Linked DNA regions of Homo sapiens: region 2 is linked to region 1. The links come from fine-mapping of genetic effects on gene expression. A gene starts in region 1. The other region holds a variant in brackets. All regions are shown on one strand. Distances are from middle to middle.

Region 1 (5,382 bases):
AAACCTGGAATTCTACTCCTGTCAATTATTGTTTCTGGCATATGGTAGGGGTTCAAAATACATTTGTTGAGCGAATTCTAACATAGTACTATTTAGTTTTCTGAAAAATCCTGTAATGATCACCTTATTTAGAACCAAACCATGCAGGCTGGTATCTTCCAAACATACACAATCTGTAAGTACAATTTTCTCCATTCCCCACTTCTAAGATAATAATGGCTATTTCTTCAGCACATATTATGACAGGCACTGTTCTAAGCACTTAACATATATTAATGAATTTTCGTGACCTCATAACGTCCATATTATCATTAATAGTATCTTCATTTTACAGATGAAAAACGGATGCCCAGAGAGGTGAAGTAATTTATCCAAGGTCCCTCAGATGAGCAGGGTGGAGGTTCACATCCAAGAGGTTTGGCTCCAAAGTTTTGCTCATAACCCCTTTGTTGCCTTCTGTTACATGGCGGAAGGTCCAGCCACTAAGATAGAAGCCAGAGGTTTAACTGGGGAAATGGGAATAATGGCAGATGTTCATCTATAAGGCTACACTGCCACTCCATGCCACAGACTCCAAGAACAGAATTACAGCCAGGCTTCAGATTGGAACTGGGCTTGGAAATGCATGCCTCTCAACGTGAATGTGGCCCCAAAACTCATGGGGGTCATACACAGCTTCCCAATGATGGCAGGGCTGTACCTATCATTCAGTAGGCTTTTATGCTTTGATAGCTGATTGTTATAACTTAGTGCTCTAATCCCAAATAGGTCGTGCATAAATCTAGAATACCAAAAGCAAGGCCTAATTCGGGTCTTGTACGGGCAAAAGTGGAGTAAATGTACCTAGGCCTTTGACTACATCTCCATACACTGCAATGGCAAATGTCATCATCTAGATTGGCTGGAGTTCATCCTTCACTTCTTCCTCCACGCTATCCAGCTTCTTCAGATATGTTCTTGTCTAGTCTCGTTTCCCATTTTCCACACCCACTTGGTGTTCCAGGTCAGGCTCGTATTCTTAGTGTTCTAACACTCCACCCTTGGGTCTTTGCAAAAGTACTTCCCGCACTAAGATCTCTTCCCTCCTCTGCAAAATCAACTTGTCCTTTGGAGTATAATTTCTTCTCGAAACTTTCCAGCAAGGGATCCACAGTAATTTCTCTTTTTCCTGTAGCACTTGCTTTTGTATCACTCATATTTGATCCATATTTTCCTAGCTCACCAAATAGTCTTTTTCAACTAGACCAGAGTTCCTTGAAAGCAAAGGGTTTCCATAGCTTTTTCTATCTCTATGGCCGGACAACGTAGTAGGAACTTATTAATTCACTTAACACTACTGGAGAAGCCAATCAATCAACAAGCGCATAAGGTTAGTTAGTGGTGAGTGCTATTAAGAAAAATTGCGGATAAAGCGATAGAAAGTGAGGTTGGTAGGTGTTAATTAAGATAGGAAGGTCAGGAAAATCTTTCTGTCGGGGGCGATTGTAAGCTGACAGGCAGTCCGTAAGCGCTGTCCCTGCTGCGTTCAAATGAATTAAATCTTTGCCTTATGGGTGATGCAGGTAAAAGAGCTCCGACTCAGCATCAAAACACAGAGTTCTTCTGGTCTGGCTCTGACGAGGAGCCTTAGTTTCCTCAGCGTCTTAACTGTCTTAAGGATTGTCTTTGTGGGCCTTACAAGATTGCGGGGAGGATCAAACATTCTAATAAATGAAGGAGGGCCACGAGAACGGAACCTTCCGCTTGAGTCACCATTTAAACAAGTGTTTGTGGAATGAGAATTATCTTGCCCGCTTCAGGTGCTCAGGATGCAGACAGACGTGAAACTGGCGGGTCCTTTAGGAGACTGTCCCGACTGCGTGTCCTGAGGTGACTCGCCCCAGGGCGCACGGCAGCCGGCAGCCAAGCTCAAGCTTTCAGGCTCTCATTTCAAAGTGTCCCGAGGTGATTCGCCCCAGGGCGCACGGCACCCGGCAGCCAAGCCCAAGCTTTCAGGTTCTCATTTCCATCACGCCCCGGCCGGCCGCCGCGGACAGCTCCGCGGAGCCGACTCGGAGGCTGCTACTTGCAAATTCCCGGGCTGCCCGCCCGCCCGCACTCACCAATGGGCTTGTCCAACCGCATGAGGCGCAAGTACGGCTGCAGGGGGCGGGGCGCAGAGTCCACCACCGCCGCCGCGGACAAACTGAGCTGGCGCCCGCGCGGCTCGGGACAGGCGGGGGGCTGCAAGTCACCACCGTGGGGCGCGCCTGCCGCACGCGCCAGGGCGAAGGAGCGGCCCCGCCAGCCCGGCAGCCACGCCAGTGCCACAGCCCGCAGGCCCCGCGCGAACCCCGCGGCTCGCGAGCCCAGCATGGCGCTGGTGAGGCCGGGACGAGCTCGGATTGACGTCATTCCCCGGCAGGCATGCGCAGTGGCACCCGCAGGATGCAATCCTAGTCTGCCAGGCTGGGCGGCGGTGTGGGCAGAACCTTTCCTCATCCTTACTTGTGAAATTGGGGTCATCGTGGTCGCTTACTCTAGGGAGGAATACTTAATGAAAAAGGGATTTCTATTGGCAAAAGGCAAAAAAATTACAATAAATTTAGTTGTAATTTTTTACAACTCGATCTTGATTGACTTTGTGGTTCCATTATCGGGCAACACTCAGAACGGGGTCTCTGAGGAAACAAACAAAAAATAGAATCGGGCAACACCTTATTCTGTAAAATAGAATAAGTGTTCCAAAGAGTCGAGCGGAGGAAGTTGGCTTTATAGACAGAAAAAGGGCTGAAGAAAGCAGAAGCAGAGAACAAAAAGCGGATTGGTCACTTCAAATTACTTTCATTGCGAGGCGGGGACAGGGAAACAACAACAGAGAAATAACGGATTGGTTAACATTAGGTTACACCAGGTTAAGGACTAAAACAGGAAACTTAATTGTCATGACGATTGCATTTTGAAATGGCCTGGTTGGAAAATTGGCTGTTGTCTCTCTTTCCTGACTTCTCAGAATGTCAGATACAACTTAGTTTTAGTTTGGTGACTTGGAACTTTAGCATGGGTGACTCTTGATTCTTAGTCTGATCTGTTGGGACCTAGTGCAGGAACTTAGTTCAAAACAATGGCCCCCTATAATTTAACCCTATTATCAGCTTTCTCCATAAAATGAAAAGGATAGTGTTTATTCATATGGAACAGTTGTACCAGGAAAAAAAAAAAAAAGCTTTGAAAAACCTACTGAATCCAAAAGAAGAATTTGCGTACACGTTTAGCCATAAAAAAAAAAAAGGGCACCAAGTGGCCACATACAAGACTGTAAATTAAAATCGCATTCAGGGTTAAGGGATGTTCATTACACAAGTGAAAATTTTAAATTTGACAGCCCTTCAAAGGAGTTTTTGTAATCAGTAGACAACCAGCATGTGTGATGCTAAGAACCTGAAGCTGAAAAGTCTGGTCAGCAGAGTCTTGCTCTGTCATCCAGGCTGGAGACCAGTGGAGGGATCATGGCTCACTGCAGCCTCCACCTCTTGGGCTCAATCGATCCTCCCATCTCAGCATTCTAAATATCTGGGACCACAGACACGAGCCACCGTGGCTGGCTAATTTTTAATTTTTCATAGAGAGGAGGTCTCACTATATTGCCCAGGTTGGTCTTGAACAGCTGGGCTAAAGAGATCCTCCTGCCTCAGATGGTCAGTACTCTTATTCATAAGCAACTCTGTATATCGCTGTGTGCCAGGCACTTTACATGTATCAACTCATTTAACCTCTCACTGAGTAACCCTAGGCAAGTCACTCATCTGGATTTTAATATTCTAGGAAGTTGACTTAGTCTTTAGGCTCCTTTCTGTAAAACATGTACAATGATTCTGTGACTTCTTGCATGGCTCAAGTACAGCAAGTTGGATGCCTGGCCACTTTGGTGCAATGAGGCAGGGGGTACCTAGCCTTTCTCCTGCCTGCAAAGAATAAAGGCCAGCAGGCAATTTAGTAACACTCCTAGTTGTTAGATTGGAGATGATTTAGATCTGACTCAAACCTGAAAAGGGTGTAATATCAGTCATGTATTGCATCCATGACTTTCCAATATAGGTCCAAACTCTTTGTTTAAAAAAATATATTAAGAATTTCAAGATGGCAACAGCAGGACATTAAACCAAGTACAAGGTCCTTCTTAGCGTAGGCCCTGGGTGACTGCACATGTACCCATGATGCTGACCCTGCCCAGAGGTGATTCAATCCTAAGATATTTGGTCCAATTAAAGTGCACAGGAAACTGAGATGGGTACCCACATGTCACTCTGCTAATTTGTAGGACAAGAGAACAGTCACATAGAGTAGAGCCCTAACTTTCAGGAGTCTCCTCTAGACTAATGCCAAGGCACAGTATGCCCTTGGGAAAGCCATTTAACTGCTGCAAACTCTTCAGAAAAGGAAGGGACTAGGCTTTCTCTAAAAGGGCCTGTAAGGCTCCGATTCCTCATTTTGTTTTTTGTTTTTTTTGAAGTGACTTTCTTTTTTTTTAAAATTTTATTATTATTATACTTTAAGTTTTAGGGTACATGTACACAACGCCAATTCCTCATTTTGGATTGGGCAGGAACTCATTTTGTTTTAAACCTATTACCCACAGGAACTGAAATGGTTAATTTTACATGTCAATTTGGCTAGGCCATAGTGCCAAAACATTTGGTCAAAAATTATTCTGGCCAGGCACTGTGGCTCACACCTGTGATCCCAACACTTGAGAGACCCAGGTGAGAGAATTGCTTGAGCCCAGGAACTCAGGACCAGTCTAGGCAACATAGTGAGACCTCATCTCTACTAAAAATTCAAAAATTAGCTGAGAATAATGGCATATGCCTGTGGTCTCAGCTACTTGGGAGGCTGAAGTGGGAGGATTGCTTGAGCCCCCGAGGTTGAGGCTTTGTGAGCCATGGTCATGCCACTGCACTCCAGCCTGGGTGACAGAGTGAGACCCTGTCTCAAAAAAACAAATAATAAACCTCTCATCTTTTTTATGGTGGCCAGAAGAATGAATTACAATGACTGACAAGGCTTTGGAAACAAGACAACCCCTCCCCACATCACAAGGACTGAAAAAGGTAATCAAATAGATTTTGCAGTATGTTCGAAGGTGGTAAGTGGTATGGAGAAAAGAAGAGTAACAGGGAAAAGTAGGGACAGGCTGTATGTATACTTAAATATGGTAATTGGGGTGGTAGGACAGCCCTGATCTCACTTTCTCAAAGACTTGAAGGAGATAAGGGAGTAGCTATGAGAGATCTGAGGGAAGAATATCACTAGATACTCTTAGAGGGATGTCTAGTGCAAGGGCCCTAAGATGGGAGCAAGCTTGAAGTGTTTTCTTAATAAGAGCAAGGAGGCCAGTGTGGA
Region 2 (5,382 bases), 29 kb before region 1:
AGGAGGGTAGGGATATGTCTTGTTCACTGAGGTATCCTCAGAACCTAGAATAGTGTATGGCATATAATAGGTACTTGATAAATATTGATTAAGTGAAGGGCTGTAGGTTTCAGAAAAGAGTTGGTTTTTCCAGAACACAACTCCATATGCAGGCATATCTACAGCAATGAAAATTTAGCCCCTAACTTAATTAGGATGGCAACAATATAATTCTGATTATTCTCACCCTAACTTGGTAAAAATGACTTTTGTTCACTTTTTAAAAATTGTGGTATAGTTAGCATACAGTAAAATTCACCTTTTGTGTGTGGGTACAATCCTAAGAGTTTTGGCAAATGCCTATAACTATGTCAAACCATTGCAATCAAGATATAGAACAGTTCCATCATCCTCCGAAATCTCCTCCTTCCCTTTTGTAGTCAGATACTCCTCTGACCTCCAGTCCCTGGCAGCCACTGGTCTGTTTTCTGTACTTACAGTTTTGCTTTTTTCAGATTATCACACAAATGGAATCATGTAGTATATAGTTTTTTGGGTTTGCCTTCCTTCACCTAGCATAATGCATTTGAGATTCATGCATTTTGCTACATATATCAGTTGTCTGTTCCTCTTTATTGTCGTATAGTATTTCATTATATATGTACCGTAGTTTGTTTATTCTTTCACCAGCTGAAGGACATTAAAGCTTTTTTTTTTTCCAATTTGGGATTATAATGAATCAAGCTATTATTAACATTCATGGACAGGTTTTTATGTGAACGTAAGTTTTCTTTCCTCATGGGTAAATACCTAGGAGTGATTTTGCTGGGTCTTATACTCAGTGCATAGTCAATGATAAGAAATTGCCAAACCAGGCCGGGTGCGGTGGCTCATGGCTGTAATCTCAGCACTTTGGGAGGCCGAGGTGGGCAAATCACTTGAGGAGTTTGGGGTGGGTGGTCCCAGCTACTTGGGAGGCTGAGGCAGAAGAATCGCTTGAACCTGGGAGGTTGGGAGGTGGAGGTTGCAGTGAGCTGAGATCACGCCACTGCATTCAAGCCTGGGTGACAGAGCAAGACTCTGACTTAAAAAAAAAAAAAAAAAAAAAGAAATTGCCAAACTGTTTTCCAAAGTGACAAAACCATTTTGCATTTCTACCAGCAATGTATAAGAGTTCCAGTTACTCTACATCTTCACTACCACTTGCTATAATATGGGATGGCTGTGGACTATGGAAACAAGACTAGAAATCTGGCCTTCTTGTTACCCGAATCTGCTTCATTCATCCCCATGTCAAGGCTTATGCACTTGCTGTTCCAACTTCTTGAAAAACGTTCATGTGTGTAACTTCCATTCACATTTTATTTTAAAGCAGAGCCTATCTATGCACACATAAAGACCAGCTAAAAACAGAATGAAGAAAATCAGAAACATGAATACATGAATGAGAAAAAATTATAAAATTGTATCCCTTTCCTTACATTCTTCCATGTTTCAGAGATCTTAACAATTTTCAATTAGTAATTAATTGATCTGTGCTAAAAACTTTTTGATTTGTAACATGTTTTTAAGTGGATTTGTTTAAAATACTCAGTGTGTATTTTGGCCAGGCACGGTGGTTCATGCCTGTAATCCCAGCACTTTGGGAGGCCGAGGAAGGCAGGTTTCCTGAGGTCAGAAGTTCGAGACCAGCCTGGCCAACATGGTGAAACCCTGCCTCTACTAAAAATAAAAAATTAGCCAGGCATGGTTGCATGCGCCTGTAATCCCAGATACTTGGGAGGCTGAGACACGAGAATCGCTTGAACCCTGGAGGCAGAGGTTGCAGTGAGCTGAGATCATGCCACTGCACTCCAGCCTGGGTGACAGTGAGACTCTGTCTCAAAAATAAAATAAAATAAAATAAAATATTTAGTGTGTATTTTTAGCAGTATTTAAAAAATATTGATCAGAGCCATAAACTTCCTGCAGATTCTAAAGTGTTAAAATGTCTTTAACACTTTCCTCTCTTCAAGGAAATGATGTAAACTGAAAGCAATTTATGTTTATGAGGCATTCCTGCAATGGGACATGACCTCTGATCCCAATAATTCTTTCCCAGATGCTGTGTTGACATTTCTACTGCTTAAGTATAAAGCAAGTAAAAGCCATGATTATTTCAGTTTGTTACTATGCCAATGCTGCCTAAGAAAAAAATTACTAACTTGAATTTTCAAGATTGTTGAAGAGTTTTAAACGAGATAAACAAATATAAATCTAGTTAACATTTGCATGCATTACTTTCCATTTCTTTACATGAATTTATACTTCGTTAATGGGTAGGATATCCCTAGATATATATATATATATTTTAAATATTTTTTTTTTTGAGACAGAGTCTTGCTCTGTCCCCTAGGCTGAAATGCAGTGGCGTGATCTTGGCTCACTGCAACCTCTGTCTCCTGGGTTCAAGCGATTCTCCTGCCTCAGCCTCCCAAGTAGCTGGGATTATAGGCACCTGCCATAATGCCAGGCTGTTTTGTATTTTTAGGACACGGGGTTTCACCATGTTGGCCAGGCTGGTCTTGACCTCCTGACCTCAGGTGATCCACCAGCCTC[G/A]GCCTCCCAAAGTGCTGGGATTACAGGCCTGAGCCACTGTGCCTGGCCTTATTTTTTATTTTTTTGACACAGGTCTGAGCCACTGTAGCCAGTGGGATATCCCTTTTAAAATTCATCTATAATTTTTACAAATTCTCCACTTTTTGTCCCCACCTTTCCCCCACCCCTCTAAACTAACACCATTTAAAAAACTCAGGCTTAGAAACTGAATGTTAAAATTGTTCTCCTGAAATAGAATCTGAAAAATCAGCTTCCTCTTTTTTTTTTTTTTTTTGAGATGGAGTCTCACTCTGTCACCCCGGCTGGAGTTCAGTGGCGCCATCTCGGCTCACTGCAAGCTCTGCCTCCCGGGTTCATGCCATTCTCCTGCCTCAGCCTCCCGAGTAGCTGGGACTACAGGAGACTGCCACCACGCCCGGCTAATTTTTGTATTTTTACTAGAGACGGGGTTTCATCATGTTAGCCAGGATGGTCTCGATCTCCTGACCTCGTGATCCGCCCGCCTCAGCCTCCCAAAGTGCTGAGATTACAGGCGTGAGCCACCGTGCCCGGCCTCAGCTTCCTCTTAAGTGAACAGTTCCTCATAGATGGTTTCTGGAAAGATAAATCCTTTGGAGAAGAAAAAGAGTGCTAAAAATGCCTGAAGGCAATGAATCACATACTGTGCTGTTAAAAGCTTTATATACGTGATTCATTCTACAAATATTTTTTAAGAATTTACTATGTGCTAGGCAGTATTCCAGACACTGGAAATAAAGTATGATGATTCAAACAGAAAATATCTGTGCCCTCATGAAGTTAGGTTCTTGTTAGTGAGGACACACAACAAAGAAAATAAGTAAAACAAATTACAGTCATGTGCTACACAGCAATGTTATAGTCAATGATGGACCACATATAGGACAATGGTTCCATAAGATTATATTGTATTTTCACTGTACCTTTTCTGTGTTTCTTTCTTTTTTTTTTTTTTTAGACAAGTTCTCACTCTGTTGCCCAAACTGGAGTGCAGTGGCGCGATCACTGCAGCCTCTACCTCTTGTGTTCAAGTAATCCTCCCACTTCAGCCTCCCAAGTAGCTGGGACTACAGCTATGTGCCACCACACCCGGCTAATTTTTGTATTTTTTGTAGAGATGGGGTTTAGTCATGTTGCCTGGGCTGGTCTTGAACTTCTGGGTTCAAGTGATCCTCCTGCCCTGGCCTCCCAAAGTGGTGGGATTACAGGTGTGAGCCACCACACCTAGCCCTTTTCTGTGTTTAAATATGTTTAGATTCACAAATACTTACCATTGTGTTACAATTACCTACAGCATGAAGTACAGTATGCTACGCAGGTTTGTAGCCTAGGGGCAATAGACTATATACCACATAGCCTAGGTGTGTAGTAGGCTAGACAATCTAGGTTTGTGTACATGAACTCTATAATGTCTGCACAGGGATGAAATTGGCTAATGATGCATTTCTCAGAAAGTATCTCCATCTGTAAGTGACATATGACTGTATATCATATGTTTTAATATGGAGAAAAAGCAGTGAGAGAGAAAAAGAAGTTTGTGTAATGGTGTGTGTTAAGTCTTAGAAAATGAAGACAATGGTTTCACTGAATCGGTGACTTTTGGGCAAATACTGAAGGAGGTGAGGAAGTATCCATGGCAACATCTAGGAAAGCATTCCAGGAACCCCAACGAGGCCAGAAGGCTGCAGCGGCAGAAGGCCTGCAGCAGCACTGGCGAGGGAGGGAGTGGAAGAAGAGCCAGAAGGCAGCAGGAGCCCGCTCACTGAGGGTCCTTCAGCCATGCTAAGGACTTTGGCTTTACACTGGGAGAAATGGGGAGGTATGGGGAGGTTCTGAGTTAGAGGAATGACATACGCTGGCTTTGGTTGTAGCAGGATCGGCCTGGCTGCTATGGTGAGGACACATGAAAGGGGGCAAGGGAGAAGGAGGGAGACCAGTGAGGAGGCTAATGTGTTAATCCAGCGGGGAGAAGATAGGGACTTGGGCCAGGGTGGCAGCTGTGGAGGTGGTAGGAAAAGATTAGATTCTGCATGTATTTTGAAGGTAGAACCAATATGCTTTTCTAATGTCTTGAATATGGAATGTGGGAAAAAGGAGTCATGGTTGATTCCAAGGTTTTGGTCAGAGCAAAAGGAAAAGGAGATGCCATTAATGAGATGGCAAGAAGGGTGGGAGGAGGAGGTTTGAGGCTGAGATCAGGAGTTCAGTTTTGAACATATTGAACTGGAGGTGCCTATTTGGCATTCATGTTGAAATATCAAGTAGGCAGTTCAATATTCAATTCTGCCAAGTGCAAGTTCAAAAGGGAAGTTTAGGCTGGAGGTACACATTTGGGAATAATCAGTATACAGATGACATTTAAAGTCAGGAGTTTAGATGAGATCATTTTCTCATGCAATTCTTAAAACACCAGCATGAGGTAGATATTATTTTAATTCCCATTTTAGATATAAAGAGATAGGCTGGAGAGGTTTAAATAGTTCACTCTAAGTCATTCAGTTAGTAACTGTAGGGACTCCAATGTTCATTCTTATCTCTAAGAGATAGTTTTCAACTTGGGCTCTGTGACAATCCTAAAAGAAAGGAAGGTTCAGTTTAAGGGGACTGTCTCTGATTTCCATCTGTACGTATTTGTTGGGGTTTTATGTACGATTTTATTTGAAAAAAAAAAAAAAAAAAAAAGTATTTATGCTGAGTGAGGTTGACTCACGTCTCTAATCCCAGCAACTTGGGAGGCTGAGACAGGAGGACTGCTTGAGCCTAGGAGTTCAAGACCAGCCTGGGCAA

Evidence for each region.
Region 2: its variant is fine-mapped to the expression of COQ2 in whole blood (INTERVAL, PIP 0.97).

The regions. Positions count from the first base shown.
Region 1 is chr4:83,282,410-83,287,791 of GRCh38, forward strand. It overlaps COQ2 (coenzyme Q2, polyprenyltransferase), which reads right to left and starts at 2,389. Exons shown (of 7, transcript NM_001358921.2): 1 at 2,103-2,389. The coding sequence starts at 2,355. RefSeq lists enhancers at 1,792-2,031, 2,227-2,521 and a silencer at 2,092-2,421.
Region 2 is chr4:83,253,731-83,259,112 of GRCh38, forward strand. No RefSeq gene overlaps it. Among named protein-coding and RNA genes, the nearest start is that of COQ2, 28 kb to the right of the region's middle. The variant G/A (reference allele first, on the strand shown) is at 2,578.